Linked DNA regions of Homo sapiens. The gene in region 1 interacts genetically with each later gene. Each region holds a gene or a part of one and is shown in the gene's direction. Other genes may lie near its edges. The genes, in order: FBXW7, EIF4A3, SNRPB2 and ITGAV.

What was found.
Region 2: changes in FBXW7 (region 1) and EIF4A3 are lethal when combined (synthetic lethality), as found in Homo sapiens cells (2 studies listed by BioGRID, with this or other methods).
Region 3: changes in FBXW7 (region 1) and SNRPB2 are lethal when combined (synthetic lethality), as found in Homo sapiens cells (one study listed by BioGRID).
Region 4: changes in FBXW7 (region 1) and ITGAV are lethal when combined (synthetic lethality), as found in Homo sapiens cells (one study listed by BioGRID).

What each region holds. Positions count from the first base shown.
Region 1 is NC_000004.12:152,525,611-152,533,092, reverse strand, and holds part of FBXW7 (F-box/WD repeat-containing protein 7), read left to right. Parts: intron 1-2,242; exon of another isoform or gene 2,243-7,482. UniProt on the Homo sapiens protein: Substrate recognition component of a SCF (SKP1-CUL1-F-box protein) E3 ubiquitin-protein ligase complex which mediates the ubiquitination and subsequent proteasomal degradation of target proteins.
Region 2 is NC_000017.11:80,144,084-80,152,531, reverse strand, and holds the start of EIF4A3 (eukaryotic initiation factor 4A-III), read left to right. Parts: upstream 1-5,403; 5' UTR 5,404-5,570; coding exon 5,571-5,739; intron 5,740-8,287; coding exon 8,288-8,360; intron 8,361-8,448. UniProt on the Homo sapiens protein: ATP-dependent RNA helicase. Involved in pre-mRNA splicing as component of the spliceosome. Core component of the splicing-dependent multiprotein exon junction complex (EJC) deposited at splice junctions on mRNAs.
Region 3 is NC_000020.11:16,725,780-16,733,176, forward strand, and holds the start of SNRPB2 (U2 small nuclear ribonucleoprotein B''), read left to right. Parts: upstream 1-4,246; 5' UTR 4,247-4,385; intron 4,386-5,888; 5' UTR 5,889-5,923; coding exon 5,924-5,987; intron 5,988-6,384; coding exon 6,385-6,557; intron 6,558-7,397. UniProt on the Homo sapiens protein: Involved in pre-mRNA splicing as component of the spliceosome. Associated with sn-RNP U2, where it contributes to the binding of stem loop IV of U2 snRNA.
Region 4 is NC_000002.12:186,634,693-186,642,174, forward strand, and holds part of ITGAV (integrin alpha-V isoform 1 preproprotein), read left to right. Parts: intron 1-1,389; coding exon 1,390-1,515; intron 1,516-2,372; coding exon 2,373-2,417; intron 2,418-3,584; coding exon 3,585-3,628; intron 3,629-3,716; coding exon 3,717-3,773; intron 3,774-6,222; coding exon 6,223-6,275; intron 6,276-6,693; coding exon 6,694-6,896; intron 6,897-7,482.

The sequences.
Region 1 (7,482 bases):
TCAGCCTCCCAAATAGCTGGGACTACAGGCATGTGCTACCACGCCTGGCTAATTTTTTTTGTATTTTTAGTAGAGATGGGGTTTCACCATGTGGGTCAGGCTGGTCTAGAACTCCTGACCTCAAATGATCTGCCCACCTCGGCCTCCCAAAGTGCTGGGATTACAGGCGTTGAGACACCGCGTCCTGCCAAAAAATTATGGTAATGTTTTATTGCACGTTTGGGTAGAAATGACAAAGTTTTTGGGGTCCCTGCCTTTGAGATGCTTTTACTTGTAGGTGGTGGAGACAATCAAACACAAATTGCACAAAGCTATAGGAGAGGGGGGATAGACCAATATTTATCTAAGACCGCACTGGATGTTAGATATTGTCAACTTATAGATGTGAATATATTTTTACATTTTTCACTAGGGAAATGTTGCTTTTGGACGTGTACATATAGAACTAATTGAAGTATTGAAGCCAAATCTGGGAAGGTTTCTTTTAGGAAGAAAAGAGCAAGTGGAGACACAATATTTAAGACTTTTGGAATTGAAAGGCATAAGGGACAGATAAAATTACGAAGCTGGTTTGAAGGGAATACAGATAGAGGTTGTTGAGTAGTGTTAGGGTCAGTTGTGTTTGTGTAGACACATGATTACAGTTCAAAGAAGCAACTGAGAAGAGTGTTCCTGAGAGTAATTTCAGATGACTGGGGAGAAATTACATTTTAGGTAAAAGCTGTATGCCTGGATTAGGATTTTGTTTTTCTAGGGAACCAACATTTTTATTATATCGTGGCTATCCAGGGCTATACAGAAGGAGGAGTGAAAAAGAAGATGCTTAGTGTGTTGAAAGTGGCTTCTTACAAAAAAGAGTTTAGAAATGGGACAGTAGACTTTGCTTTGGATGTGAAATTTTAGGGCAACAATTGGATACTGGTGCAGTTTCAAAACAGCAAAATAGTTTAGCAGGTAATATACTGAAAATGTAAAGTTGGAATTATTTTCAAAGTATTTAGGTTTCCCAGAGTACTGATGGAAAGTGAAGAGCTGAAAAGTGGGTATTTTTAGTTAGGGGGAAAATCTGAATGAATGAGACACTACCTAAAATAGATGTTTTAGAAGTGGATAAGAGTTGAAGTTAAAAAGGAATGAGCAGGCTTTAAACATGGCCACCAGTTTAGTCCCAGGGTATATTATTCTGTATTTTTGAAACAAGCTAAAATTTTTTTTTTTTTTTAAATAGGGTATATAGGTCCCTTGAGATTAAGTTCAGAAGAGTATACTTAATAATAATTTCATTGTTAAGGAATTTATAAATAGAAGGACAGATTTGTTTCCTCAAATTCATGTTTTAAAGTTCACTGTGCATTATTATCCTACGTTTGGTCTTGATATGACGAAGTGAGGCCAAAAATAGCTGACAGAGAAGGCTGCTTCCCTTGTTCACAGTTGGTGTGTGTCTTTGTGTCCCATACAATGGAGGGGATATCCCTGTGTAGGCACAGTAGTGCTGAACATGCTTTTTTTTTTTTTTTCCTTTTAAACTTTTTATTAAAAAAAAGCAACTTGGCATTTAAAAAAATGTAGACATTTTTGCGGCTTGCATTTAGTATTGACTTTAACAGGATTAAGGATTGTGAGGAAGGAAATATATATTCACACTTTTTTGTGTTCCTTAGTTGGAATTCTGCACCTTCCTAGTAGCTTCTCTGACTTCTTAACAGTGATTATTCAAATGGCAGAAACTCTGGGGAAGAGATGTTTCAACAAGGAGATAGGTCTAAGGTGATTCTAGGGTGAAAATATAGGGATTGGATTATATGCCATATGGAGGCCTTCTCTTGTCATCCTCCACTTTCCACAACATTTTTTGTGCAGTCGAAGCCATGTTCAGATGAATTTTAGAAGGCAGCCACTTATAGTTAATGTTATTTACTAGTGAGGACAGTGGGAAGAGTGGTAACTTCATGTACTTTGCCTTGGCAACTTTTGGATTGATAGGGAATTAGAGAGCCTTGAGGGTATATGTTTGTGTGTGTGTGTGTGTTTTAGCACCCACCAGATGACCCCAAAGGCCATGCATAGGCTCATTTCATTGTACTTTGGAGATGGTTCTTGGAGAAGTCTTCTGGTGCTTCTGACATCTCATTGTGTAGAGAAAGAGTTGGCAAACTATTTTTGTAAAGGGCCAGTTAGTAAATATTTTAGGTTTTACAGGCCACATGATCTGTCACAACTTTCAATTCTGTTCTTATAGTGTGAAAGCAGCTGTAGACAACAAGGAAGTGAATGAATGTTGCCGTGCTCCAATTGGCCCATAGGCCGAAGTTTTTGGACTCCTGGTATAGACAACTGCCAAATCCACCAACAAACAGTATGAGCTTTATTACACTACAAAGCCAGGACTGGCTATTTTTGGTGGTCTTTGTTTTCTAGATGAGATGTTTTTCTCTGAGTTCATTTAAAATGATTCTGCATAAAGCACATACTCTACTGTACAAAATACTTTTGCCTTCATGGTGATGAAAACTATGGATTGAGGGTCGGGGTGATACCATCTTTAAAGGGATGCAGCTAAAAAGTAGGGACTACCTGCATTTCTTATCTAAAGATAACCACAGTTGGCATTTAGTGATATACTGGCTTTGTATCATGGCCAAAAGTATCTGTAAAGAAGCTTGTGGGCATACTTTTGAAACCTTCTGAAAATAAATGTAAAGCATTTACTTCGTGTGTAAAATTAGAAGTGTCTATGGTTGGTTTGAATAATATGAGTCAAATTATAAGAGCATTAAAGTTTGATACTGCTATCTATTAAAGTCTTAATCTCTTGCAGTGGCTAATTCAGTGTGTAGAATTACACATCGCAATTTTTGTTTTGTTAATTTCAAGTACTAGTGTATATTAACAAATCACTTAAATCATTTAAATGTGTACTTTAAAAAGCTTTGATGTATATACATATATATACGTATATATATATATGTACACGTATATATATACACGTGTGTGTGTGTGTGTGTGTGTGTGTGTGTGTATTTTTTTTTTTTTTGTGACGGGGTCTCATTCTGTCACCCAGGCTGGAGTGCTGTGGTGTGATCTCAGCTCACTGCAACCTCCACCTCCTGGGCTCAAGTCATCCTCCTACCTCAGCCTCTCGAGTGGCTGGGATCACAGGCATGCGCCACCATGCCCGACTAATTTTTTTGTATTTTTGATAGAGATGGGTAACAACTTTTGGATTGATAGGGAATTAGAGAGCCTCGAGGGTATATGTGTGTGTGTTTTAGCACCCACCAGGTAACCCCAAAGGCCATGCATCATGTTGCCCAGGCTGGTCTCTTAACTCCTGAGCTCAGGTAATCCATCTACCTCGACCTCCCTCAGTGCTGGGATTGCAGGCGTGAGCCACCACACCTGGCCAGCATTGCTATATTTTTAAGAGTGAATCTTTCTCACATGTGTTGTTCAGAAAGTGTAATTCACTTTGTGCAATTTTACATTACAGTTAATATTAAAATATTTGTTTCATATGTCAGCAGATACCAACATTGGATGATGGTATATTTAGTTTCATAAATCCTATTTATTTTAGGATTCCCTTGTTTATGGCAGGGGTGGAGATTACTCTTGCAATAATGATCACTTTTTAGTTAGTTTGAAACCTGCTTTTAGTTTATATGTAGTATTTCTACATATTGTTACTTAAATTGAACTAACAATTTACTTTTTAATTTTTCTTCTTCCTTTTAAAAAAAGAGTATATAATCTGACAATGTTAGTACATCTTTTAGAAGGTCACTATAAAGTTGCTTTCCCTATTTATTTGGAAAGGATTATTTCCTTATTATTTTAAAAAATCTTTTAATTTTTGTCTTTTCAAGTAATTTTATCATTGTCCCAAGCCTAAGGATGAGTGGCAATTTAAAAGACACAAGGTGTGCATCTTCTATCTGCAAATACTCCAAACAGAAATTATTCCAGTTTGTTGATACTTTGAGTGGACCAGGGAAAAATGTGTATGTTTTTAGTGTAACTGAATTGTCATTACAAAAAGATGAGTAAAGTTGCTGTTAAATAATGAATTCTTGCTGTTAATTTGTCCTGTTCTTAGACTTTCCCCCATTAAGTATAATGGGGGAAAATGTACACACACACACACACACACAAAGTATGTATGTGTAGATATACCTAGCGTATTGTGCTAGATGTTCATTTCTGCATGACTGCTCTGGAATTTAGGCAATATTAAAAGACCTTACAAAATATTTTTAATATCACTTAATATCCTGTTTTATGTCTTAATGTACTTTTATGTTTTTGCTGCTTTCTGATGATACCTCCTTGGTACTTCCTCATGATACCTTTCACAGTATGTTTAAATGGAATGTATTTTCTCAAAGTACGTGACATTTTCTGAACACTATGGGATATATATCTTCTAGTAATTATATTTTTACATGCAAGTATCTTTAAAAATTTCTTCCTATTACAACTTAAGAATTGTGAAACATTTGAGGGAGCATCTGCAGTTTGAGCACTTGATCTGGATATTGGAATGACAAACTTAACATTTAACTAAATTTTTCTGAGGTGTTCTTTTACAATTTTTGAGTTAACACTTGATTTCTGTAAAGCAGAAGGCTTATAAGAAGAAAATATGAGAGCCAGTGTTCGTCTTGTATTATCCTGCCATGCACGTAGTTGAAAATCAGAAACAAACAGAAATGCACAAGAGACCTTATTGCTTGAGTATCTTCTGCTCTTCCCCCATCAGACCTAAGGGACAGCTAGTGGATCAGTCAGATACTGTGCAGTTTCTGTTGCTATGCTGTGTCACCTTTGCCCTTTCTTTCTATCTGGAAGATAGCTACTGGAAATCTGGCTGTAAGAAAGAGATAGCATGTTTTTTTCCTCTCTCTCTCTGTGTGTTTCTGTCTGTCTGTGTACCTGTACCTAGTGTATTGTGTTAGATGTTCATTTCTGCATGACTGCTCTGGAATTTAGGAAATATTAAAAGACTACAAAATATTTTTAATATTATTTAGCCTTTTCTCTGAGAGGATCACATCCTCTGGCTTTGGCGTTTTCATCTCACAGCATCTTAAACGAACCCGTCAATGTTTATTATCAGTTCCAAATGTGAAGTCTCAAGGCAAATTGTTGGTTTGTTTTTGGAAGAATGTATGTGTGTGTGTATATATATGTGTGTGTGTGTGTGTGTGTGTGTGTGTGTGTGTGTATATAATTTTTAAATTTTTAACAAAAATTCCTGATCTAGTCAATGCTTATGAGAGTGTGTGTGGTTTGTATAAAATTATTTTTTTTAGAGACAGGGTTGCTTGTTGTCACCAGGCTGGAGGGCAGTGGTGTGATCCTTGCTCACTGCAGCCGTGACCCCCTGGGCTCAAGTGATCTTCCCACCTTAGCCTCCTGAGTAGCTGAGTAGCTGGGACTATAGGTGTGTACTGCCACACCCTGCAAATTTAAAAAAAAAATTCTGTAAAGACAGGGTCTCACTATATTGCCCAGGCTGGTTCTCAAACTCCAGGACTCAAGCAGTCCTCCTGAAATGGCCTCCCAAAGTGTTGAGATTACAGGCTGGGGCCACAGTGCCCGGTCAGAGTGTGTGTATTTTTTAACAGCCTTTTAGGATTGCATGCTTTTTAGGGGGGTGAATGAGGGGTAATATACCTTTGCATGACATTCTCTAGGTCTGAGAAGGAGTTGCTTCACTAAAAGTGTAATTTATAATTACCAAATGGTTGAAAACAGGTCTACCTGGAGTCAGCAACAGGCAGCTAGTTTACTTCTCATTTACGTAATAAAATACATTCATAATATGCATTCAGTAATTCATAATTCAATAATTTCTTGGCTTCATGGCCTTGGACAAGCTATTTATTATCCTTTTAATTTTGGTGGCATCACCTGTTGATGGAGGAAAACGTGTCCTTTACATGGTGGTTGTTAGGATTAAATGAGATAATATAAAGCATGCAAAGCTCTTAATCCAGTGCCTGGCATATAGCATTTGACCCATCAGTGTTAATTTATTAAGTTAAAGTTGTTTTAAAGTGTGTTGTAGATAGAAGATTTAAATCAGGCCTTATATTAAGCCCAACATTTAAATTCAACACTTGAGTTTGACAAATAATACTGAAGTAATTCTGTGTTTTCAGAAACATCTAAAACTTCATTAACATTTTATTAAAAACTGAAGAAATGACAGAACTGTTGGGCTTTTTTTTAATAGAAAAGAAAGACTGATTTGAACATAACTGGAATTTGAATTTAGTTTCAAAGATCTCAGTAGTGCATGGACCAGAAAAGAATCCGTTTTTGAATAGTTAGTGATTATGATAGTGACTGTGGTTTAAATTGCCCATTTAGAAATAGCAGGATCTAATTCAGTTATCAGCCTTTTTAGTTGCCCATCTCTTTAACCCCTGGAAATAAAAAGCTTTAAAAAATCATTAAGAAGTTGAACGGAAATTTTATCTGTGTCATTTACATCTCAAATTAAGATCGAAATAATTTTGTTTACATGATTCTATTTTAACTACTTAATTTTAGTTTTTGTTTTTTCCTGAAATTATTAGTATGTGGGTTTTAAAAATTCCTTTTTTTGTGTGCTTAATATTTGTTAAATACAAGATTGGTTTTCAGAAATACCTTTTCTTCGAGTAGGGCATAATCAGTGTTTTATTGGCCAATACAATAAATAAATGCTTCTTGATTGTTTTTGTATTTGGAAAGAAATTCTATGTTGAGAACAGTTTTGGTATGCTTTCCTTCATTGGCTGTTTATTGAATAGAACTGTATATTTAAGGTATATGAAAAAAATCTAAGCTAGAAAAAAAGACTGAGATACATTCTTGGAAGAAAATACTTGCAAACTATGCATCTGACAAAGGTCTATTGTCCAACGTCTATAAGAACTTAAATTTACAAGAGAAAAACGACCCCATTAAAAAGTGGACAAAGGACGTGAATAGACACTTCTCAGAAGAAGACTTACATGTGGCCAACAAGCAAAGAAAGCTCAATATTACTCATTAGAGAAACGCAAATCAAAACCACAATGAGATACCATCTCAGACTATTCAGAGTGGCTACTATAAAAAGTCAAAAAATAACAGATGCTAGTGAAGTTGTGGAGAAAAGGGAACACTTATATACTGTTGGTGGGAGTGTAAATTAGTTCAACCATTGTGGAAATCAGTATCGCGATTCCTTAAAGAGCTAACAGCAGAACTACCATTCCACCCAGCAATCCCATTACTAATGGGTATATACCCAGAAGAATATAATTCATTCTACCATAAAGACACATGCACACGCGTGTTCCTTACAGCACTAATCACAATAGCAAAGATGTGGAATCAATCTAAATGCCCATCAGTGACAGATTGGATAAAGAAAATGTGGTACATACACACCATGGGATACTGTGCAGCCATAAAAAAGAAGGAGATCATGTCTTTTGTGGGAGT
Region 2 (8,448 bases), on another chromosome or scaffold:
TAATTTCTTAATCGTATGCTAAAAAGGGGTGGACTGTTCATGAGTTTTCCAGGAAAGGGGTGGGCAATTCCCGGAACTGAGGGTTCCTCCCTGTTTCAGACCACATAGGGTAACTTTCAGGGGTGGCCATAGCATTTGGAGACTGTCATGGCTGGTGGGAGTGTCTTTTGGCAGCTGATGCGTTATAATTAGCATATAAGGAGCAGTGAGGACAGGCGGAGGCTGCTTTCATCACCATCCTGCTTTTGGTGGAGTTTGGAGGCTTCTTTACCACATCCTGTTTTATCAGCGGGTCTTTGTGACCTCTATCTTGTGAAACAAGTCCTGCCAAATTCCTACCTCACCATCTCCCCCACAGCAACCTCCTGAGCTCACAGCGCTCCTGGCCAGCTGGGACTGCGTTGTGTCCCTCCCTCTCTCTTGCCCCAGAGGTCCACACATTGAGTAAGCCAACAACTATTTATTGAACACCTACTGAGCATTAGGGAAACAGTGGGGGCGAAACAGACATGACCCTAGCAGCCGCATTTAATGGGGTGAGTAGTCTCCCTCCCCAACGTGGAAACCATGTGGGAAGTGAGATGCCGGTGACAGCGAGGATGCTGAGACCAGGCATAGGGGTCTGTCTACCTCAGTGACCGGGAGCCTCTTTTCCTAGACACCTTGGGGGCCAGGGACAAAGGGCAGGCACTATAGCTACTGTTTAGGGAACTCTAGAGCCTGGCCTGCTTGTGCCTTTCCCTGTAGGGCGCTTGAACTTATCACACTGGGCCTTAGTGTCTCCATCAGTAAAAGAAAAAAGATACCTATCTGCATTCTCTACTTATGGAGATAATGGAGGTTTCCCATAGGAACGGAAACATTTATCCAGAATTTTAAGCAGGGGACTTGTGGATAGAAAGCTAAGCGAGGCTGTCAGCTCTCATTTTTTAAGTAGATGTTATGCATAGCACAACAGAGCTACACAGAGCCGACACTTTAACAAATCTGGTGCATGACTCACAAGGCATGTTCTCAAGACATGGCTGACACGATCCTAACTGCCTACCAGTAATAAACAGAACAAGGGGTTTGGGATCCTATTGATGCTAGGGCATCTGCTGAGCACTACATAGGCCATGGAAAAGCACGCACCATATTTCACAGCAAAAACCTCTTCTCCTGAGAGGAGCTCTTGCTGCTCTCCTACATGACAAAAACATGAGTCTCCTCCCATCTATTCACCACCTACCCACACTGCGTTTTCTAAAGCCTTTTTGGCAACAGGGATGGGTTTTGTGGAAGACAAATGTATTATTCCATTTTCATACTGCTATAAAGAACTGTCCGAGACTGGGTTATTTATAAAGGAAAGAGGTTTAATTGACAGTTCAGCATGGCTTGGGAGGCCTCAGGAAACTTACAATCATGGCAGGAGGTGAAGGGGAAGCAAGGCACCTTCTTCACAAGATGGCAGGAAGGGAAAAGTGCCAAGCAAAGGGGGAAGAGCCCCTTATAAAACCATCAGATCTCGAGACAACTATCAAGACAACAGCATGGGGGACTCATCCCCGTGATTCAATTACTCCACCTGGCTTCTCCCTCGACACGTGGGGATTATAGGGATTATGGGATTACAATTCAAGATGAGATGTGGGTGAAGACACAAAGTCTAGCCACGTCAACAACTTTTCCACAGGTGGTGGAAAAAAATTCTTCCAGAGATGGATGGGGTAGTGGTTTCGGGATGAAACTATTCCACCTCCCATCATCAGGCATTAGATTCTCATGAGGAGTGCACAACCTAGATCCCTCGCATGTGCAGTTCACAACAGGGTTCACACTCCTCTGAGTCCAGTGCTGCTGCTGACAGCAGGCAGAGCTCAGTTTAGCTCCCTTGCTTGCCTCCTGCTGCACCGCCTGGTTCCTAACAGGCCACAGACAGGTGCTGATACTGGTCCGTGGCCTGGGGTTTGGAGATTCCTGCTCTAAAAAGTGGATTTACCCTCATCATCCCAGGGCCCCTCAGCCTCTAAGAAAAGAGGCCTCTTGGTCACAAAGGTGGACAGACCCATTAAGCTCTGGGTGAGCAACCCCGTCTCCAGCACCTCATGTCCCACAATGTTTGTGTGTTGGGGAGGGGTCCATCTCACGCGATTAATCTCAAGGCAGGAGAGCCCATGTCTGTTTTATGCCCCATTGTTTCCCTAGAAAGCATCGTTCACCCAGAGACTGCAGCAAACCTCAGCAGCTCTCATCATTGTCACATTGTCATAGACTCTGGGCTAAAAAGCTACTGCTCCCCAGAAAAGTTAGAGCCCTTTAAGATGTGTGTTCAGACACCTGGCATAAACAACATTTCCAGAAAAATGGTGTAAAATGTTAGATCATCTAGTCATAAAAATATGAAGGAAAACAAATCTAAGCAGTTTGTGGATTAGATTTTAACTTTGAACAAGGTGAGAGGCCTGGTAGCTCACACCTGTGATTCCAGCACTTTGAGAGGCTGAGGTAGGAGGATCGCTTGAGCTCCTGGGCTGGGGCCAGGATGTACGGTCCTCAGTAAGGCTTCTGAATAAAACTAACTTTAATTCTTTAAAAGCTTAACTGTTTTTCTTTAGTCAACAAGGTATTTTACATTCTTCTCCTACGTTAAGTCATTGAAATCTGTGTGTATTTTACGACAAAGCGCTACAGCACGGCCTGGCAAACAGTGTGAGGCACGAAATGATCCTTTGTAGAGTGAGGAAGGTATCAGAACTTACATTTTATTCAGCTTTATAAATATTTAATATTTTGGGTAACACCAGCATCCTTACAAGGAATGTTTATCAGAAGGTCAATTATCTGTCATGGATAAATTCTGGTGCCAGAATGAGATTCACTCTTGGAGAAGGCTGCATTTACTTGTTCACCCTTGAAATACTGCAATCCACCGACTTCTTGATAAAAGGATGCTCTGGTTTTCTGTTTATTTTTGAGATGGAGTCTCTGTCGCCCAGGCTGGAGTGCAGTGGCGCAATCTCGGTTCACTGCAACCTCCACCTCCGGGGTTCAGGAGATTCTCCTGCCTCAGCCTCCAGAGTAGCTGGGACTACAGACACCCGTCACCACGGCCAGCTAATTTTTGTATTTTTTTTTTAGTAGAGATGGGGTTTCACCATTTTGGCCAGGCTGTTCTCGAACTCCTACACTCATGATCCGTCTGCCTCGGCCTCCCAAAGTGCTGGGATTACAGGCGTGAGCCACCAGGCCTGGCCAGGATGCTCTGGTTTTAACTAAAATTAACCTTCATAAAAGGAGAGCTTTTCAAGCACTCCTAGAAAGAAGCTGTGGATTAAAGATGTGCCCAGCGATGCAAGCCAGATTTGTGACCATAAGAAAGGACAGGACCGGGCTCATGCCTGTAATCCCAGCATTTTAGGAGGCTGAAGCGGGCAGATCATGAGGTCAGGAGTTCAAGACCAGCCTGACCAACACGGGGAAACCCCATCTCTACTAAAAATACAAAAATTAGCCGGGCGTGGTGGTGCATGCCTGTAATCCTAGCTACTCAGGAGGGTGAGGAAGGGGAGTCGCTTGAACCGGGAGGCAGAGGTTGCAGTGAGCCAAGATTGCGCCACTGCACTCCAGCCTGGGGAACAGAGCGAGACTCTGTCACACACACACACACACACACACACACACACACACAAAATAGCGGGGCGCGGTGGCTCACGCCTGTAATCCTAGCACTTTGGGAAGCCGAGGTGGGCGGATCATGAGGTCAAGAGATCAAGACCATCCTGGCCAACATGGTGAAACCCGGTCTATACTAAAAATACAGAAAATTAGCTGGGCGTGGTGGCGCGTGTCTGTAGTCCCAGCTATTTGGGAGGCTGAGGCAGGAGAATGGCGTGAACCTGGGCGACAGAACTTGCAGTGAGCTGAGATCGCGACACTGCACTCCAGCCTGGGCGAACCGAGCAAGACTCCGTCAAAAAAAAAAAAAAAAAAAAAAAAAAAAAAGGACAGAGCTGGCGCTCGTGGAAATACAATTTTCCCAAAGTTAAAAACATGATTCTCAACAGCATGAACTGCCCTTCAAAGATGATGGAGCTGCTTCAAAAGGCGTTAGAGGAGCTGGGTACGAAGAAGCACTTAAAGTGTCAGATAAGAAAGCGGTTAGTGGCTGCGCGTGGACACCTGTGGTCCCAGGTGCTCTGGAGGCTGAGGCGGGAGGATCGCCTGTGCTCGGGAGGTGGAGGCTGCAGTGAACCGAGATCGCGCCATGGCACTCCAGCCTGGGCGACAGGGCCAGACTGTCTCAAAACAAACAAACGAACAAACAAAAAGCAGGTTAAGATGCACAACTGGTTAAAGTTCTGCTGGGCAATTAAAAAATGATCCCGTCTGGGTTATCTTTGCTGCAGGACACGCATTAGCAGCACCGTCTACTGACAAGTGGCCTTCATTAAGAGCAAATTGCAGGCTCAGCATGTATTTTATTTATAACAGCTGCTTGCCGGGCACAGTGGCTCATGCCTGTAATCCCAGCACTTTGGGAGGCCAAGGCAGGCGGATCACCTGAGGCCCCGCAGTTCAAGACCAGCCAGGACAACCCTAACCCCCGCCTCCCCCAACCCCGTCTCTACAAAAAAATTTAAAAAATTAGCCGGGCGTGGTGGCGCGCGCCTGAGGTCCCAGCTACTCCAGAGGCTGAGGCGGAGGCTACAATGAACCCTGATCCTACCACTGCACTCCAGCCTGGGCGACGGAGCGAGACCCTGTCTCCAACTCACCAGGCAAACGGTGAAGACACACCCAGGCGCGTCCCCTAAGAGGGACGCCGGCTTCAGGGGCCCTGGCCCTCCCCAGCGCAGACCCGCCGGAGCCCAGCGCCGCGCCGGGGCCCACCACCGGCGGCCGTGAGGGTTTCCACTCGAATCTCCCCGGCGAGCTGGGCGCCTCCACTACGGGTCTGCGACGCAGTCCACCCACTGCGGGCCCGAGAGAGGACCCGTGCTCGTCATTTTTATTCGAGGCGGGGCTATCTGGGGACCCCGCCCGGAGCGGAGGCCCCTCGCGGCCCCAGCCTGTTTCCAGGGAATTCAGGTCCACACGCCGCTCAAAGAACCTCAGCGCCCCAGTCCGCGAAATCCCGCGGCCGGTACGAAACACCGCCAACTTTAGAAGTACCACCCCCTCCATCCCTTTCGTAAGGAACTGGGTGCCCCGCCCTCAACGAGATCCCGCGGGAACTGCATATGGCGCGAGAGCAGAAACACCTTACTTTTCCCTGCGGCAAACGCCCAGTTCCCTTTCACGTGACGAAGAGTGCCCCGTCCCCCAGAGGCGTGGCCGCGTCGCGCGTACGCACGTACGCACGTACGCACGCACGTCTCTCGCTTTCGCATACTTAAGGCGTCTGTTCTCGGCAGCGGCACAGCGAGGTCGGCAGCGGCACAGCGAGGTCGGCAGCGGCACAGCGAGGTCGGCAGCGGCACAGCGAGGTCGGCAGCGGCAGCGAGGTCGGCAGCGGCACAGCGAGGTCGGCAGCGGCAGCGAGGTCGGCAGCGGCGCGCGCTGTGCTCTTCCGCGGACTCTGAATCATGGCGACCACGGCCACGATGGCGACCTCGGGCTCGGCGCGAAAGCGGCTGCTCAAAGAGGAAGACATGACTAAAGTGGAATTCGAGACCAGCGAGGAGGTGGATGTGACCCCCACGTTCGACACCATGGGCCTGCGGGAGGACCTGCTGCGGGGCATCTACGCTTACGGTGAGCGGGCGCGGGCCGCGGGGGCCAGCCGGGGGCGAGTCGGGGGCGAGCCGGGGGCTGAGGGCCAGACTGGTGACTCCCGGGCCGGCCCTGCGCTCCGGAGGTCGTGGTCAGGGTCGAGGCTCGGGGGCCAGTGACGTCCGACCCCCACCCCCACCCCCGTCCTCGCCCTCACGCCTGGCTGTGTCGGCGCTTTCGGTGTGTGTCCCCCGTGCAGAGCTCGGCGCTGGGTCTGTCGGGGGCTGCAGCCGCTTCGAGGCACCTCAGCGTCCTTCATTCAGCAGATAACTGATTTCTACCTATTAGCTTTTCTAGGTACTGGGGTTTTGGCGGTAAACCGGAAGGGTTTGCGCCTTTACGGGTTTTGAATTTCGTTTGGGGGGAAAGCATACTGTCAGGTTGCCCAGGCAACCTGAAGAACCTGAAGCGGGGTAATTGAATAGAGTGGGACTGGGAAGGAGGAGAGAATTAGTAAAGCAGAGAGGTAAGGGGGTTCGCAGGAGGGGGTGCCATTTGAGCAGAGTTCTGGATGAAGGAGACTGTTATGAGAAGAGGGAAGAGCAGTTGGGGCAGAAGGAACAGCTGGTGCCAGGGCCTTGCAGCCCTTAGCCAGCTGCATTCCAGGAACTGAAAGAAGTCCCCTGTGGTGGGATTTTGGAGAGCTAGTCGGGGCAGATCTAGCAAAGACGTGTAGGGTGACGAATAATTTGAATTTCATTTAGAAATCTAGTGGGAAGCCAGTGGAAGGTTTTAAGTAGCTATGTGACACGATCACATTTACAGTTTTAAAGATTCTTCTGGGTGTCTGTAGATTTGAGGTGAGGCGAGGCAAGGCAGGAGAGGAAACAAGAGAGTTGGGAGCTTTTGCTGCAGTTCAGGGAAGAGAGGATTGTGCTGCCTTGGAGATGGAGTACCAGGGAGCTGACAGCATTGGCTGATGGATTGAACGTGAGTGACAGAAGGAGGAGAGTTGGAGTGTTTTGAGTAACCGGTGGTTGATGCTGCAAACATTTGGCTAGGTAGGCAGCACTCCAGAGAGTCAGAATCAGGAGCTGTCTCTTGGTATGTTTGAAAGATGTGAGGAAGTTGAGGGAGAGCCTGGAGAAGAGGTTGGGTTGGGCACATAGATGGGAATGACCAGCATCTGGGATAAATGGCCTGTGTTTAATGCTTGGGACAGGGACATTTTTTATCCTGTAGTTCTCTTCCTTTTCTTTCTTCCTTTTCCTTCTGACAGTCCTGCTCTTGTCACCAAGGCTGGAGTGTAGTGGCATGATCTCAGCTTATTGCAACTTCCACTTCTGGGGCTCAAGCGATTCCTTTGCCTCAGCCTCCCGAGTAGCTGGGATTATAGGTGTGGGCCACCACGTCCTACTAATTTTTGTATTTTTAGTAGGGAGGGGATTTTGCCATGTTGCCCAGGCTGGTCTTGAACTCCTGACCTCAGTGATCCACCAGCCTCAGCCTCCCAAAGTGATGGCATTACAGGTGTGAGCCACCCCACCTGGCCGTATCCTGTAGTTCTTGATGCCACAACAGTTTGGACAAAGTGAAGCGAAGTTGCTGAGGATGCGTGGTGAAAAAGCATCTCAGGCAGCCTCACAGTGAGGCTGACAGCCCCACCTGGTTTCCTGGCACTCAGGCAGTCCCTGCCCTAAGACACTGTTGTTAGTTTCCCATCTATGTGCTTGCTCTTCATGAAGAGTTTAAATCATCTGCTATATTTGCATTTGTGTTAAGATGGGAAATTGTGCTACATTTTCTTTTGTTTCTTATTTTTCGCTATGCCCCAGAACTGAGCAGAGCTACATTTAAGAGACTACCAAAAAATAATTGAAATAGAGTTTTTGTACATAAAATTTTATTTACTTGAAAAACACGTGGTTCTTCTTCAAAATAGCCTCACCCTTTGGTGTAGTAGTTGCTTTGCAAGAGAGATGGTGTGATGGTGTTGTAGTTAGTGAGCTGCATCCAGACAGAACAACATAGGACACCCTGCAGCGTGACCCACGCAGGTTAAACAGAGTTGTAGACCTGTCAGCAACACACAGACTTAATGCTAGCTAGTAGGAGAGAACAATGGCTAGAGTGACTTTCCTGTTTTTTTGTTGTTTTTTTTTTTAATTTAAAAAGTAGTATAGGTTGTTTGTAATCCAGTCAAACCTAAGGGAGTAATTAGAGTAAAAAGTAAGTTTCTTTCCACCCCTCTACTGCAGTAACTGCCAGGAACATTTTGGCACTTACACTTCCAGATGCTGCACACCCAGATTTTTTTTTTTTTTTAAACAAAACTGTTGTCTATATTCTACAATTTGGTGGTTTTTTAAAAATAGAGATTGGTCTTTACAAATAATATCCCACGTTAGTGTAGAAATCACTCAGCCCAATTCATTGAGCCCCTGGGTTTTGAGAGCTTGCTATGTTGAACACTGGGTTAGGCTGGAGGACAGGTTCAAAAAACAAACCATGTCTGCCCCTGAGGAGCTCACAGTACAGGGTTTCTATGCTGTCATTGTGGTGAGGGCTAATTTTTTGTTTTTATTTGCAGGTTTTGAAAAACCATCAGCAATCCAGCAACGAGCAATCAAGCAGATCATCAAAGGGAGAGATGTCATCGCACAGTAAGTTGTCCTGGGGTGCGGCGCAGGGCTGGATGTAAATTTGGGCAGCGCAGTGCAGTTAGATGCTCTGGGATGACTGTTTCCCTCA
Region 3 (7,397 bases), on another chromosome or scaffold:
TCCACCTCACAGGTTCAAGCAATTCTCCCACCTTCCCACCTCAGCCTCTGAAGTAGCTGGGACTACAGGCATGCACTATGGCACCAGACTAATTTTTGTGTGTGTATATATATATTTTTTTTAATTTTTTATTTTTTTAATAGAGATGGGGTTTCACAATGTTGGTCAGGCTGGTCTCAAGCTCCTGACCTCAAGTGATCCACCCACCTCAGCCTCCCAAAGCTCTAGGACTACAGGCATGAGCCACCATGCCTGGCCTACCAACCATTCTTTTTTTTCTTCTTTTTTTTTTTTTTTGAGACAGAATCTGACTCTGTTGTCCAGGCTGGAGTGCAGTGGCATGATCTTGGCTCACTGCAACCTCCACCTCCTGAGTTCAAGCGATTCTCCTGCCTCAGCCTCCAGAATAGCTGGGATTACAGGCGCCTGCCACCACGCCCAGCTAATTTTGTATTTATAGTAGAGACAGGGTTTCACTGTGTTGGCCAGGCTGGTCTCGAACTCATAACCTTGTGATCCGCCTGCCTCGGCCTCTCAAAGTGCTGAGATTACAAACTGAGCCACCGCGCCCGACCCCAACCATTCTTAAAAAAGAAATGCTTAGGTTCTTGCTACCCAAAATGCGGTATGGGACCAGCAGCATCAGCATCATCCGGGAGTTTGCTACAAATGCAGCTTCTCAGCACTGGATTAAGATATCTGGGGAATGCCCAAGAAATCAACAATATATCACTTTTGAAATTACACAATCAGGGCCTGACAGTCTTTTTTTTTTTTTAAAGCTGTTCTTTTTAAATTTTGTGTTTTCAAACTGTCCTAAGGCTTAAGACTCAAAAAAAATTACAGGGATTAATCATAGGGGAAGCAAAACCCATTATATTTAAAAGTTGTGTGTGCATAATATTTTATTTCATGGGAGCATCTCATGGGACTGAAATCTTAATTTTCTAGTCTCAAAGAGAACGACAGTTGTATGATGCTACTTTAGCTCCTTTAGGGAAGGGCAGGTGATACAATACTGAGCACAACCTACATGTCTCACAAAAAGTTCACCAAAAAAGTTCAGGTTTTCCCCACACTTCTTTGGATTAATGATCAGGTCCTCAAAGAAAAACTACCATTTCCAAACTTTATGGAATGTGCACATTCTCATAGCCTATCTGAGACATCACCCATTCTGGGGAGAGGGTATTTTGCTGCATGTGAAAGACACACTATTCTTAACATTAATACAGTAGTGAACATCAGAGGCAATAGTCATATTTGGGTTTCTTTCATTCCTAAAAGCAAGAATGTATCCACAAAGAATGAAATGTAAGAATTAAGTAAAATGAAAGAAAATTGCACAAAATTATTTCCTCCCTGAATTGGGGGTGGGAGAGTGGTGCTTTTTAGGAAGTTTCAGTCAACATTATCCCAACCTCCCTGGAAAACATAAACCTGATTTGGTGCTCAACAATAACGCCTAGATTTGTTTAATGCTTGTTGTGAAAATAATTTCACTCTAGATACATTTCTTAATGTAATCACCACCTGGGGAGAGAAAGAAGATACAAACGAATTGCCATACATTTTGTGACTCTATGTAACATAAATAAGACAAAATTTATCCACCAGTTTTATGGTGCATTTTCCTTTATACATGGCTCCTTCTTAAAACTACTGCAGCAAGATACCAAAAACAATTAATGAGAAACATAAAACACGTGCAGATAAGGTAGGGAAATGTATGTGTATTCAGAGTCACTAAGAGACACCTCAGTTATCTTCCTTATAATTTAGACATCTTGGCACAGTTTTATTCCCTACTGTTTGTAGTAATTTTTCTGCTACTCCCAAAATAAGCAAGTTTTATCATCTGCAAATACATGACACTTGGATAGGGTGGTTATAACGCTGCCTCCTTGTTTCTCTCGATTAAAAAAAGCCTGTTTCACAGGAAAATAAATCACGATACCTAACCCAAATGTGAAAGAACAGACTGAGCAGAACTAACAAAACTCATTTGCTCTTCTAGTTTTTAAAAATGTGAGTTTTGGACATCTGATTCCTGATCTCACCCTCAAGAAGTGGATCTGGTTATAAAGTGATGATGTTTTACAGTACATGTGACCATAGTTTAGCTGCTATAATATTCTTAATATAGTTACATAGCCAGGCTATGCAAGGTTTCTCACAAAACCAGAAAAGCTATTCGATCCTTATCATTCCCTTCCTGTACTGTTCTCAATAACTGGCTTCTCAAATCGTTCAGGAAACCACTGAGAATCATTAACGGGTTATTGGAATGCCCAGAGTGACTGCCCAAGGACAGGAAAATGCACTGGCTCTTTTTAGAAGAACCTGGAAAAGTGCATGCAGACCATTGCGGCTGAGTTGGCAATGGATGATTTCCTTCTCACAGTGTAATGTACAATAGCTGTAATTTAATTGTTAATAGAACACAACATGCAGTCTGTCTTCAGGCCTCTGTGTTTCTTGTGGTATTTTCTTCCCAGGTTGGAGTGTTTTTGTATAATCACATCTTATTCTCTTTTAACAGTTATCAACTCTTGGCTAGATCCCCTTATACAATACAGAGTATAGTTTATTCTCAGTAGTGTAGCCATCCTCATTATTATCAAACAGAACTAATTGCTGAGATGCTCATAGTAATATGCAAAACAGCTTGTCCTTTGTTATTTAGAAATTGTTTATATTAAGTTTATATTCTCTTTTAATTTGTTAAAGATATAATTCTTTGACTGAGATAGGACATTTCTTCTCATTGGTTTATTTATTTTAGAGATGAGATCTCACTATGTTGCCCAGGATGATTTTGAACTCCTGGACTCAACCAGTCCTCCTGTCTCAGCCTCCCCAAATGCTAGGATTACAGGTGTGAGCTACTACACTCAGCCATTTCTTCTAGTTTTAGATCTATATAATAAAACGATGCTTTTCTGTGATCCCTTAACATTCTCTACACTCAGGTGCATGTTCAAAGCATATTTGTTTTACTGTTGCCTAGTTTTCCATGTCATTCATTGAATTATCCAATGCATATTAATTATCAGTCACTTTTCCCATTACTAAGGGTACTTGAGTGAACAGAGCAGACAAAAACCCCACCCTTAAAAAGCTTATATTATTTTCAAGTTGTTGCAACTTTGGGTGTTTTTAAAAAATAAAAATTCCCAGCTGATAAAACCAACTTATTTGACAGCTACCTGCCTCACCAGTAGAACCAAGTTATAGCCAGAATTCAGAAATAACATTTTTGAGCATTTATTGTGTCTGACAATGTGCCAATCACTTTACATTTATTTTAGCTCATTTAATGCTTACAACAACTAGAAGGAGGTACTATTAGGATCCCTATTTTACAGATGAAAAAAGTGAAGGTCAGAGAGATTAGTTAAGCAGAGGGTACAAGATTAGGTTCCAGTTGACTCTTAACAACCATTTCATATTCCAGGTGATGCTTTACAGACATCTGATGAATGGATGGATGAATGAATGCATGCACTTTGGGAACTCCCATTCAGCTTGGCATAAATACTAACTCCTTAGAATACCCTAGAAAAATCTAGACCTTTTGTTGGAAGAAAAGAGTGGGAAGGGTGGTAGGGAATTATTTTTTCGAGTGAATTGAGGCAGATGATCTTACAGATGACTGGGTTCTAGTCAGCATGGTTGCCTTATCTGGTGAGAGATGAGAATTGGGCAGACACCAGTTCTGTCTGCCCTGGGCCCTCAAACTGAGTAGCCTCTGAGATTCAAGTTCATCAGCACAGTGTTGGAGGACAGTTCCTGCAGAGCCCCATGAATCAGAGGAGACTCGGAGGCAGGAGGAACTGGCTATCCTAAAGGTGATTTTAAACCGGGGTAGCTAGAGCCCAAAGAAGGGCGAAACCAGGACTAACTGCCCCATAGCATGAGGGGCAGCGCCTGTAAAATTACATAGGATTTGTAAAGGTGGAAGGCACTGTTGCGCCGGGTAAAGCTTCGCAAGGTCGTGGTAGGGGAAATGATTCACTCCCCTTCACTATTCCCTCGCAGCATGGTCCTCACAACCCCCTTCTCTTTCCCCATTTCCATTTCCGGACTCTTCTCCTGCCCGCAGGGCAGACGCACGCGCAGAGAGATTGCCAGCCCTGGCTGCCAGAGACCCGGAAGCATCGATCGGCTCTGTGCTCGGCTTCTAGACTTGTCGGCGCTCGATTGAGGAGCGTGGCTACGTTGCTTCCGGTGCCTGGCTCCGTTTCCTGCTTTTGGTTCTTACAGTAGTCGGCGTAGGCCTTAGGTGGGTTCGTGCGCCTTCTACCTCGCTGTTTCGGTTTTCCTGGCTCCTCGGCCCTTTTCTCCCCTGTTGCAGCTGGGAGCGGACGAAGCGCGAAGCTGGGGTGGGTACGCGTTTGGCCCGGGTTTGGATCTCGGAGGGGCAGGCTTGGGGGTGAGGAGACTGACTCTGGGGCCGGGCATCGCGTGGCAGCTCCCTTGGACTTCGTTAGGGGGCCTTGGGCGAAGGTGCTTGTGTCTGGAGAGGCGGGAGGCTTGCGCGTACGAAGTAAAGGATAGTTAATGTCAGTCTGCTCGTGCGAGGCGTGGACAGTTCACTGCGCTTTCAGGTGTCTTCCAGCGGCTCCCTTTTGGTGGTGGCGGGTAATTCAGGGTGTCCCTGTAACAACGCAGCCCACGATCAAACCTCGCATGAAACCCTGCAAGAGCCTCCCCTTTGTCCCCCTACCTTCACTTTGACCTCTGCCTCAGTCACTTCCCTTTCGTCGTCTCCTTTGCGACCCCTGCCCCTTCTCCAGATTTCGATTTAGGGGGTCGCAAGGCTTTGAGAAGCGTTACGTTTTACCTGTTACCTGCACAAGTGCAGCCCCTGCTTGTAGGCTCTTCCCTTGTCAATCATCCAATGCAGTTCACATACAGTGGATGCTCTGTAAATACTGTGAGATAAAGGAATATGTGGGGCACACAAGGAAATCATCCAAGTTCACAATTTGCAAGTAAAAACCATGTAAAAAATGCAATAGTGTGGTATATGAGGAAGACAAGTGTAGAGGAGAAAGCAAGGGCTGAATTTCCAGGCCTGATGCTTATTAGCTGTGTGACCTTAGGCAAGTTCCTTACCTGGTAATAGCTGTTAATAATAGCTACTCTTAAGTGTTTACCGCTGATGCAGAACTGTGCTAGAATTCATTTAGTCTTCTGAGTTCTATTGGGTAGGTTCTGTTACCATTCTTATTTTACTGATGAGGACCTGAGAGGTTAAGGAACTTCCCTCAGGCAAACAGCTAGTAAGAAGCATAAATAGGATTTGAATTCACATCTGGCTGATACTGGAATCTGAGTTTAATCGTCATGCCACACTGCTGTCATTGAGCTCCTTTCTTTCAAGTCGGTTAGAGATAACCTTGGAGTCCAGACAGCTTGGTGATGCTGTATACAAATTAATAGGTATGGAAGGACTTTGTAAGTGCACCCATTAAGTAGTTGGCAAACTTCATTAATGTCTAACCTTATGATTTTTACTGGATGTACATTTGCTACTTTGGTCATTTTTCTTCAAATCTACATTTTAAAATTATTTCATTGAGGAGGTGGAAAGAAAATGTCACGTGTCATAAGTGAAACGTAAGTGTAAAAATAAATGTGTTGAATTAAATGGTGTTACTAAAATCTGGCTAGGTATTGGTGCTCCAAGTTTTGAATGTGAGAAACTGTTCTTCTTCTGTATGAAAAGGAGGGCTAGTAGGTGCTGGAGATACAATAAAGGCTACAGCCAAACTGACATTTTCTGACAACTGGGATTGAAAGAGAAATGAAAAGTTAATAATTCTTGTGTTGTGTCCTTATGCCACAGTCCAGTATAATTTACTCCTTCCTTTTTATAACAGATTTTTTACTGTCTCCTGAAGAATTTAACACAAACATGGATATCAGACCAAATCATACAATTTATATCAACAATATGAATGACAAAATTAAAAAGGAAGGTAAGTGCTTTTTAGAATACTTGTTCACTACTAAAATGTGTTTATTTACTACTGTCTTAAAAATTGTACTGCCTCAAAACCTCTTACCTCATCATCTTAGTGCCTGAAATAATGGTTTATCCCATTTCCTATAGGGATTTGAAGGCTTTTAAAAAACAAAAATAGGTAGGAACTGACAGTGTGTACAGTCTGTTTCTACTCATAGATATAATGGTTTCATATAACTTTTAAAATTACATATAGCCAATGGGAATAGTATATGTTTTTATAAATATTAAAATATATAACTGTATAAATAAGTGAATGGTGGGGGGGGCAACTCAATGCAGTATCATTTTATGAAGACTTTTGTCATTACTTTATTACCAATAACTTGTTTCTTTTCTAATTTGGACAGAATTGAAGAGATCCCTATATGCCCTGTTTTCTCAGTTTGGTCATGTGGTGGACATTGTGGCTTTAAAGACCATGAAGATGAGGGGGCAGGCCTTTGTCATATTTAAGGAACTGGGCTCATCCACAAATGCCTTGAGACAGCTACAAGGATTTCCATTTTATGGTAAACCAATGGTAAGCCAATTCCATTATTTCACTTTAATCAAGAAATTAATGATATTGATGGGACAGTAGATTTGTAAATATGCTTGAAACTGTGGCTATTGCTTTCTGCTTTTAATTATGTGTGTTTGGGTTTATGTATTTTTATAGAAAAACAGTAGTGGTAGAGTTTAATTTATGACAGTTCAGATGGGCAAAAACAAAATACATTGAGATGTAGAATATTTTAAAAAATAATGGCAGTCTAGGCAATAGTCTTATCTCAAAAAGTTAGAAATTAATAATATCCTGGAAGACTTGAAAAGAAACCTGTTTGTAAACTTGTAAAACATTACGAAACAAAAGTCATGAGTCAAAGAGGAAATTCAGTCTGAAGTTTTAGAATATGTCGTAGTGAAATACTATGTGTCAGAAGCTGCACAGTCTAGATGAAACAGTGATCTAAGGAAAAATGATAGGTTTAAACTCATAGGTTTTAGGAATAACAATGGAAATGAAATGGTTATGAATGGAGAGTTTTAAACTCAGGAATGACATAATGAGATTCACATCTAGCTGCTGGATGAAGGTCGCATTGTGGGAGGGACAGAAAGGAAGTGGGAAACTCAATTAGGAGGCCCTTGATGTAAGTCAGAGATGGTAGAGGATCAGATAAGGGTGACCACAGAGTGTGAAGCAAGGGGTTTCTATGTATGAGTGAATACACCATATCTTAGGTGTGGATTCCAAACTGCTTTTTTTCTGCGATTAGAATGTGATGTGAAGGAGTGTTGGACAGAGAGCCAAGGGCCAGGGTTTAGAGGAGCTGGGTCTTCATTCTGGTTGTACTATTAACTGGCTCTGTGCCCGTGG
Region 4 (7,482 bases), on another chromosome or scaffold:
TTGGGAAATAAAATGATTTAGAAAAATTATAATTGAGTTTTACTGTTTTAAAACAAAAATAGCAGTTCTAAAGTACATATGAGAAAATAGGGGATATTAACACTTTATAGTTAGATATAGAAATATGGATTTATTTTTCTTCTTTATTGCTGATTATGTCATTCAGTGGAGGGGAAGGAAGTATCTGATGAGCATGCCTGGGAACCAAAACTGTCAAGGAAGCTAAATTTTGTGATTCTCAGTTAGGACTACTTGTTAACTCTGTCTTTTTAAGAGATACAGCTGTGAAAATGTATGACCTTTTTTTTTAATGCCATGGGTATTGCATAAATAGGAATAATAATAAATAGGAATGTGTAATAATTAGGACACAGTAATAAATTAGGACAGAGAGGTACTATTAATATTATATTTATTAGAATTTTATTACAAGTTGTCTGTAATATATAGCTAGCAGACTCAGTGAATTGGCAAATAGTATTTTGTTTTAATAAGATTAAAATCAGCAGATGTCACCCTGGATAAGTACGTTAGAATGAATTTTTTCACAGATCTCAGAATTGTCGTTGTTAGAATGGAGAAAAGAATAATGTTTTATTCAGAAGAAATAATGAATTTTCCTCTGTTCTTCAATTCAGGAAATGTTTATTGAATTTCATATGTTCTTGGTACCGCTGAAGCCCAGATGATAAAGTAGTGACCTGGACAGAGAAAGTGCTTCTGTGCTGTAGATCCAGTCTCTGTGACTGAACAGATGGGAACAGGACTGAAAATGTTAGCTGTTACACATTTCTTTCTAAAACAGCAGAAATGATAAGAGATTACTGTGTCCATATTGTGGAGACAACACTTGATAAACCAGCTATCCTTTCTTGGCATGGAGGGCAGGCTGATTTTTGTGTAGTCATCTAGATTTCTTGTCTGCTTAATAACAAGGTTGTGAACAAAGGTGAACTCATCCATTCAGGTTGTTTCCTAAAGATGTTTAAATTACTAGTTAAAAAATATCAATTGAACCAATTATTCTGATTATAAAAGTAACAGTATTGTTTCAGTAAATTTTTCATGTTTTAATGGATTAGTTGGGTGATAGCCTTTGATTTTATTATTCCGTGTATTTAACATTGCTTTCTAGTGATTTAAGACAAGTCCTGTTTTCTTAAATTTTTATTAGCAGAGACTACTTTTAAGTACTGGCTTAAACAGAAATAATTTTAAGTTAAGAATATCCATTTTCAAATTGAGTATGATCAAGGAGAGTTATGTACGGCTAATAATTAGAAGTACTAATATCTAATATTGTTTTCCTTCATGCAGGTACCATACATTATCTGTATCATAAAGTTTCCATTTGAAGGTTATTTATTTTATATATACACCCTTTTTTAGGTCAGCTTATTTCGGATCAAGTGGCAGAAATCGTATCTAAATACGACCCCAATGTTTACAGCATCAAGTATAATAACCAATTAGCAACTCGGACTGCACAAGCTATTTTTGATGACAGCTATTTGGGTAGGTAAAACCAAAATTTACTCATTTTTGGAACTGTGGTACATATATCTTATATCTGAGTATGGTCTTTTAAGTAGAAAAATATTTTATGTGAAATAGATTAGGATTTTTTGAAACATACAGAATATACAATTTCAAATTGTTAATGAGTACTTTGGTTATGTTACGTTTCAGTAATTGAAATTGAAGACAGTGATTATTTGTGCAGTGATAATAATAATAGCTAGCCTTTAAGATATGCTTACTGTGTTCTGGGCATTGTTCAAGGTGACTTGGTTTGTATTCACTCATTTAATCCTCACAAGTCAAGCATACTGTATTATTCTCATTTTGTAGGTGAAAACACTGAGGCACTGAGACGCAAAATAACTTGCCCAAAGTCACTCGCTTGTAACTTGCTGTTCAGAGATTCAAATGGAGACAGTCTAACTCCTGAAGTTTTCTTCATGATGTTAAATAAAAGTTTTGGTCTTTAGGACTTATTAACATGTGTTCTCTCTTTCAATTTCTTTATGATATATTAAAACAAGTCATATATGACAGAAATAGTACTTGCTGATTGAGAGAATTTATTTGTTCTTTATGATGAGTTGTAAATTTGGTGTTTTTAACAGACTCCTTTGTAAAGTTAATAAGACAATTGTAGTTTTGTAATAAAAATAGACTATTTGAGTATTTAACTCAGTTTCATTTAAAATTCATATGTCATATATATATGAATCTGTTATGACTAGGGGACAAAATATTGCATAAGTAAAGGAGTTTCTTGAAAATATTTTCAAGGAATGCTTACTCAGCAAGCCTGCTGAAGATAACGTCCTTGTCCTGATGGTTCTCCCCTTTGGTTTCCTGTTTAGGTTATTCTGTGGCTGTCGGAGATTTCAATGGTGATGGCATAGATGGTATGAAGTACTTGAACTATATCTAATCTTTAAAAAAATTAGATTAAGTATTTGAAACATGTGGCATTGAAAATTTTAAGCAGTTTGAGTGGCTGGGTGCTGTGGCTGCAGCCTGTAATCTCAGCACTTTGGGAGGCTGAGGCGGGTGGATCCCTTGAGCCCTGGAGTTCAAGAACAGTCTGGACAACATGGCAAAACCCTGCCTCTAGAAAAAACACAAAAATTAGCCGGGCGCGGTGATGCACACCAGTGTCTAGCTTCTCAGGAGGCTGAGGTGGGAGGATCTCCAGAGCCCAGGGAGGTTGAGGCTGCTGTGAGTTGTGATTGCGCCACTGCACTCCCGCCCGGGCGACAGAGCCGAGACCCTGTCTCAAAAAAAAAAAAAAAAAAGGAAAAGAAAATAAAATTTTAAGCAATTTTAAACCATTGTTATGGAATATAACAGAAGAAATGAGGAAGATGTTAGCACACTGGTGAGAGTCCAGGCTAGGTCTGTGCTGAACTTCCTCTAGTGGCTGCTGAAATTGAGACAGCTACACTTGGCTTCAGTGCCTTTCCTTTCTGCTTCTTTTTAGCCCCCAACACTGTTAGTGATTTCCTTAGCATTTTCCTCCTTGTCTTCAGCAAATTCATTCCTCTGGGAGGAAGAATTAGTGTCTTCTTTCTTTAGGCATCCTTTGTTACCTTCTGGGCCATCTCTGTACGGTTATTACCCCATCCTCTCATTGTCCATCCATCTTCCTTCAGAGCTCCGTTTAGGAATCACAGTCTTTACCTGATTTTGATCACATTTTTGTGCCACAGCCACTTCTACCCCACTTCAGTTTGCTCTGTATTATTTTTCATTACTGTACTACTAAACTAAATGTAGTTTTTCTTCATTCTTAGGTTACTTTATCTTGTCTATTCTTGTTTAACAATATTACAAATGACTTGAGGGCTTATTTGCATATGTTTGAGAGCCCTCCAGAATTTGTATTTTGTAAATTTTGATTTTATAGTTTAAAAATGCTGGGCTATTTATTACGGAGTACCAATTTTTCTAAATTGATTGTTTGTTTTGAACTGAAGTAGTAAAACTTAAAGCTTGCTGACATAGTCACTTCTGGTCTGCAACTTCCAGTGTTGTCCTAAAAAATGAATAATTTGTTTGTTTGTTTGTTTCAGACTTTGTTTCAGGAGTTCCAAGAGCAGCAAGGACTTTGGGAATGGTAGGACAGTTAAAAGGTATTTTTTAAAAAATCTCTAAGTTATCTTCTATTTTACCAGATTTCACATACTTCTATTTTTCCTTCACAGGTTTATATTTATGATGGGAAGAACATGTCCTCCTTATACAATTTTACTGGCGAGCAGGTATGCTTCCAAAATATGATCGTCCTCTCCCACTATAAAAGCAGTATGTACTCATTGGAGAAAATTTGCGAAATAAAACTGTAAAAATGAACTATAATCTCATCAAATAGATAATTCTTCCAACTCTTACCATTTTGGTCAAACTATTATCATTTCTCTTTTGAGCGTGTGTGTGTGTGTGTGTGTGTGTGTGTGTGTGTGTGTGTAGTATATAAACAAAAATTGGTTTACTCTGTATTTTTCATTTTGTCTTGCCTTTTTCACTCAATATTTTATCATCAGAGTTTCTAATTTCTTAAAACTTTCCTTGGCAGTATCAGAATGGTTTAATGATTCCATAATATTCAATATTCTAGATATAAGATGGGCTTTAAATATTTCATCTTTGTTTTAACCAAAGTAATTTGGATATTTTGGCTTGTTTTTGTTTCCTTTTTTTTTTTTTTTTAGGAAATGCAAAATCACATGCATACAAAACCACAAAGACTTCCTTTTTCTTTACTGAAAAGAAAAAAGAGAAAAGAATTCTTTAAATTCTTTTTTAAGGATGATCAATGCCTTATAATTTTATTAGATGCAACAGAAAGCATGGCACAGATATGTGTATTATAGATATTATAAGCGAACTTCATTTTTACTACATGAAATAAGATATTTCTCAGCTAAAAAAATGCTAGTACTTTTTAAGTATTAGACATTTCTCTGCGAGTACAGGCATTTTATAATATTCTCTGTTGTATGTCTCAAAGAATTATACCATAAGTTGGTAATGATGAATAAACATTTAAACAGTAGGTAGAGAAAAATCTTTCTCAAAGTTTGCAGATCTGGGATTCAAGCCTTTTTGTTCAGTTGAGATTGTTGGGCTTTGGGATAGGATTGACAGGCTGACTGACTAGACTCATGGTCCCCAGAAACCTCCTCCCATTTGTATGGCAGTCAAGATTGATGCACAACCTGGAGGGCCCTGCAGTTGACAGGCAGTTAGGGTTGCTGCAGGGGTGGTCCCTTTGTTCCGTTTTGACTTCTCCAGCTCAAGCAGCTTCTCCTGTCTGGTGACCATGTATGAGTCTGGATCCTACTGCATGCACTCAATGATACTTGCTTTATTCCTCCTTCCACTATTGGGAAGTGGGGGTGGCTAGAGAGGAGTGGGAAGCGTGGCTTTTAGATGAGGACAAACCTGGGTTTTCCATGCTCAATCTGTTATTGCATTGGATAAGGTATTTGCTGCTGAAAATCTGTTTCTTATTTATAAAAATAGGGATGCTGACAACTTCCTCATGGGACAGTTGTGAGAATCAAAAGAAAACATTCGAATCATAGTGCCCGGGACAAAGTGTGTCTCAGTAAATGCCATCCTTTCTTTACACTTCCAAGCCAAACACCATAGGTGACTAAGGCCCATGAATATTATTCTGTTACATAGTCGGCACATCAACCTTGTACCCCAAACACAGTATATTTTATTTCACAAGCTCTGAACTTGTTATTTAATACAGAACACACCTTTCATTTTCCCAATTACACTGTATCAACCCAAAATAGATAATGCAGGAATCTCCCTTATCATTCTCCCTTGATATCTGAGCCAATCAAATTTGAGAAGCATTGCTAACTTTCCTTTTTTGGTTTGTTGACTCATTTTTCACCTTACTTTATATTTAATCTGTCATCTCTTTTAGTTTTGTTTTGCACTTTCAGCTCTCTTTAGAGCTTTCCTTTTTCACATTTATTTACAGCTAAGCTGCTCATCCTATGCAAGCCTGTGGTCTCCTGTGGTAGGGAAGAGGACATTTCTGCTCCCTGTGCATTATAAGCTCATAATAAACCCAAACACATTTGTACTGTGTGTGATTCAAAAGCAAAATCATGTGGCAAGTAATCTATAGAGATATGACACAAAAATGAGCTCCTTTCCATATCTTTCCAAACAGTAATTTTTAAACAGTAGTAGTAGTTACACATAGGGGAGCCAATTATTATCTGTTATTAATAATTATTATCTATTATCCTCATGACATAGGCATCCATATAAAACTTGTTGGGTTCAATCACAACATTTGTCTGTGACTATATATCTTTGTTAGTGTGCTTGTGTCTGGTATGTTTTGGGAAGTGGAGAGAAAGGGAGATAGTAGGGTAGGCCTGAGAAGGAGAATTGATAGTCCTTAGACTTAAATGTCATATATCAACAACACTGGAAGGATATACATGTAATATATTGTGTATATACATGTAATATATTGTGTCCATGATCTAGGAAAACAACAAGCCTCATTACCTGATTGTCATTGTGTTGGTAGAATAAACAAAAGACAAGACATTTAGATTGAAGCACTATATGCAGAGAAAAAAAATAACCCTATTTGGTACATATATTACAAATGTTAATTGTCTAAACTAATTGGATGAAATATAAACATTTCATTTTCATCTTTTTATCCAGATGGCTGCATATTTCGGATTTTCTGTAGCTGCCACTGACATTAATGGAGATGAGTAAGTTTAAAAAAAAATGTTTCCAGAAAGTTATCTTCTCATGTTTACGAATACTTTACTCAAACTAAACATTTTTTTCTTCTGTTTTTGTATTCCTTTTCTGCTAATCTTTCTGTTTAAGGAAACAATTTGAAGCAACCTTAATCATGAATTCTAGAAAACCTCATATGTTTGTTCTGTTTTTTTTCAGTAGCTTTTATAACATGAACAAATAAAGTAATTTTATGAATTATTCATAGTTTCTTAAAAGAATTAAAGGAAGTTTCAAATTTGAAATGAGTGCTCTGGTAATCATTTTGTGTTTCACTGTGGGTGTGAGAGATGCAGAAAGAGGAAAAGTGAGTTGTAGTAAGAAAGAAAATGCCTACTAAGACATGAAATTTGTTCTTGCTTTGGTGAGAAGTTTCTGTTCTTCTAGTTATGCAGATGTGTTTATTGGAGCACCTCTCTTCATGGATCGTGGCTCTGATGGCAAACTCCAAGAGGTGGGGCAGGTCTCAGTGTCTCTACAGAGAGCTTCAGGAGACTTCCAGACGACAAAGCTGAATGGATTTGAGGTCTTTGCACGGTTTGGCAGTGCCATAGCTCCTTTGGGAGATCTGGACCAGGATGGTTTCAATGGTAAGATCAAAGTTTAGCAGCTACAGGTCCCTGATTATCTGTGTCCACCTGGAAAAGTTCTGTAAGTCCATCTGTAGAAGTCTACACGAGCAAATCTCCTTCCTGGAAAGGTGGATTGTGTGTAAGTGAGTAACACACCAAATTTAAAGACAGTTTGCTATTTTTCTTTAAAAATCAGAGCAAAGATTTCAATAATGGACTCTCATGAGTTATTATTCACTTGGCCTCAAATTAGAAGGTCAGAATGATTACTTTCTGAAAGGAACCTTCATTACCCTGGTGCCTACTGCTAGCTGGTATGTGTTTCTGCATCCTGCTTAGCAGCAGTGCCCTCTTCTGTTCATTTGGCTACAAGTGTTAAAAAAAAATGCTTCCAGGCACATTGTCAAGGCAATGCTGACTAATGCATACCTCAAAGGTATGATTTGCCATTAATATTTTTAAAGCCATAACTTTGTTGTAGCTGTCCAAAATGTTCTAAGGGATGTTATATCTCCCTTTATGGTGGCATATTAAAAGTATAAGCCTATTCGTTTATAATAGTACCATTTTAATAGTTGTCGATATCTTTAAAAAGCAAAGTTAG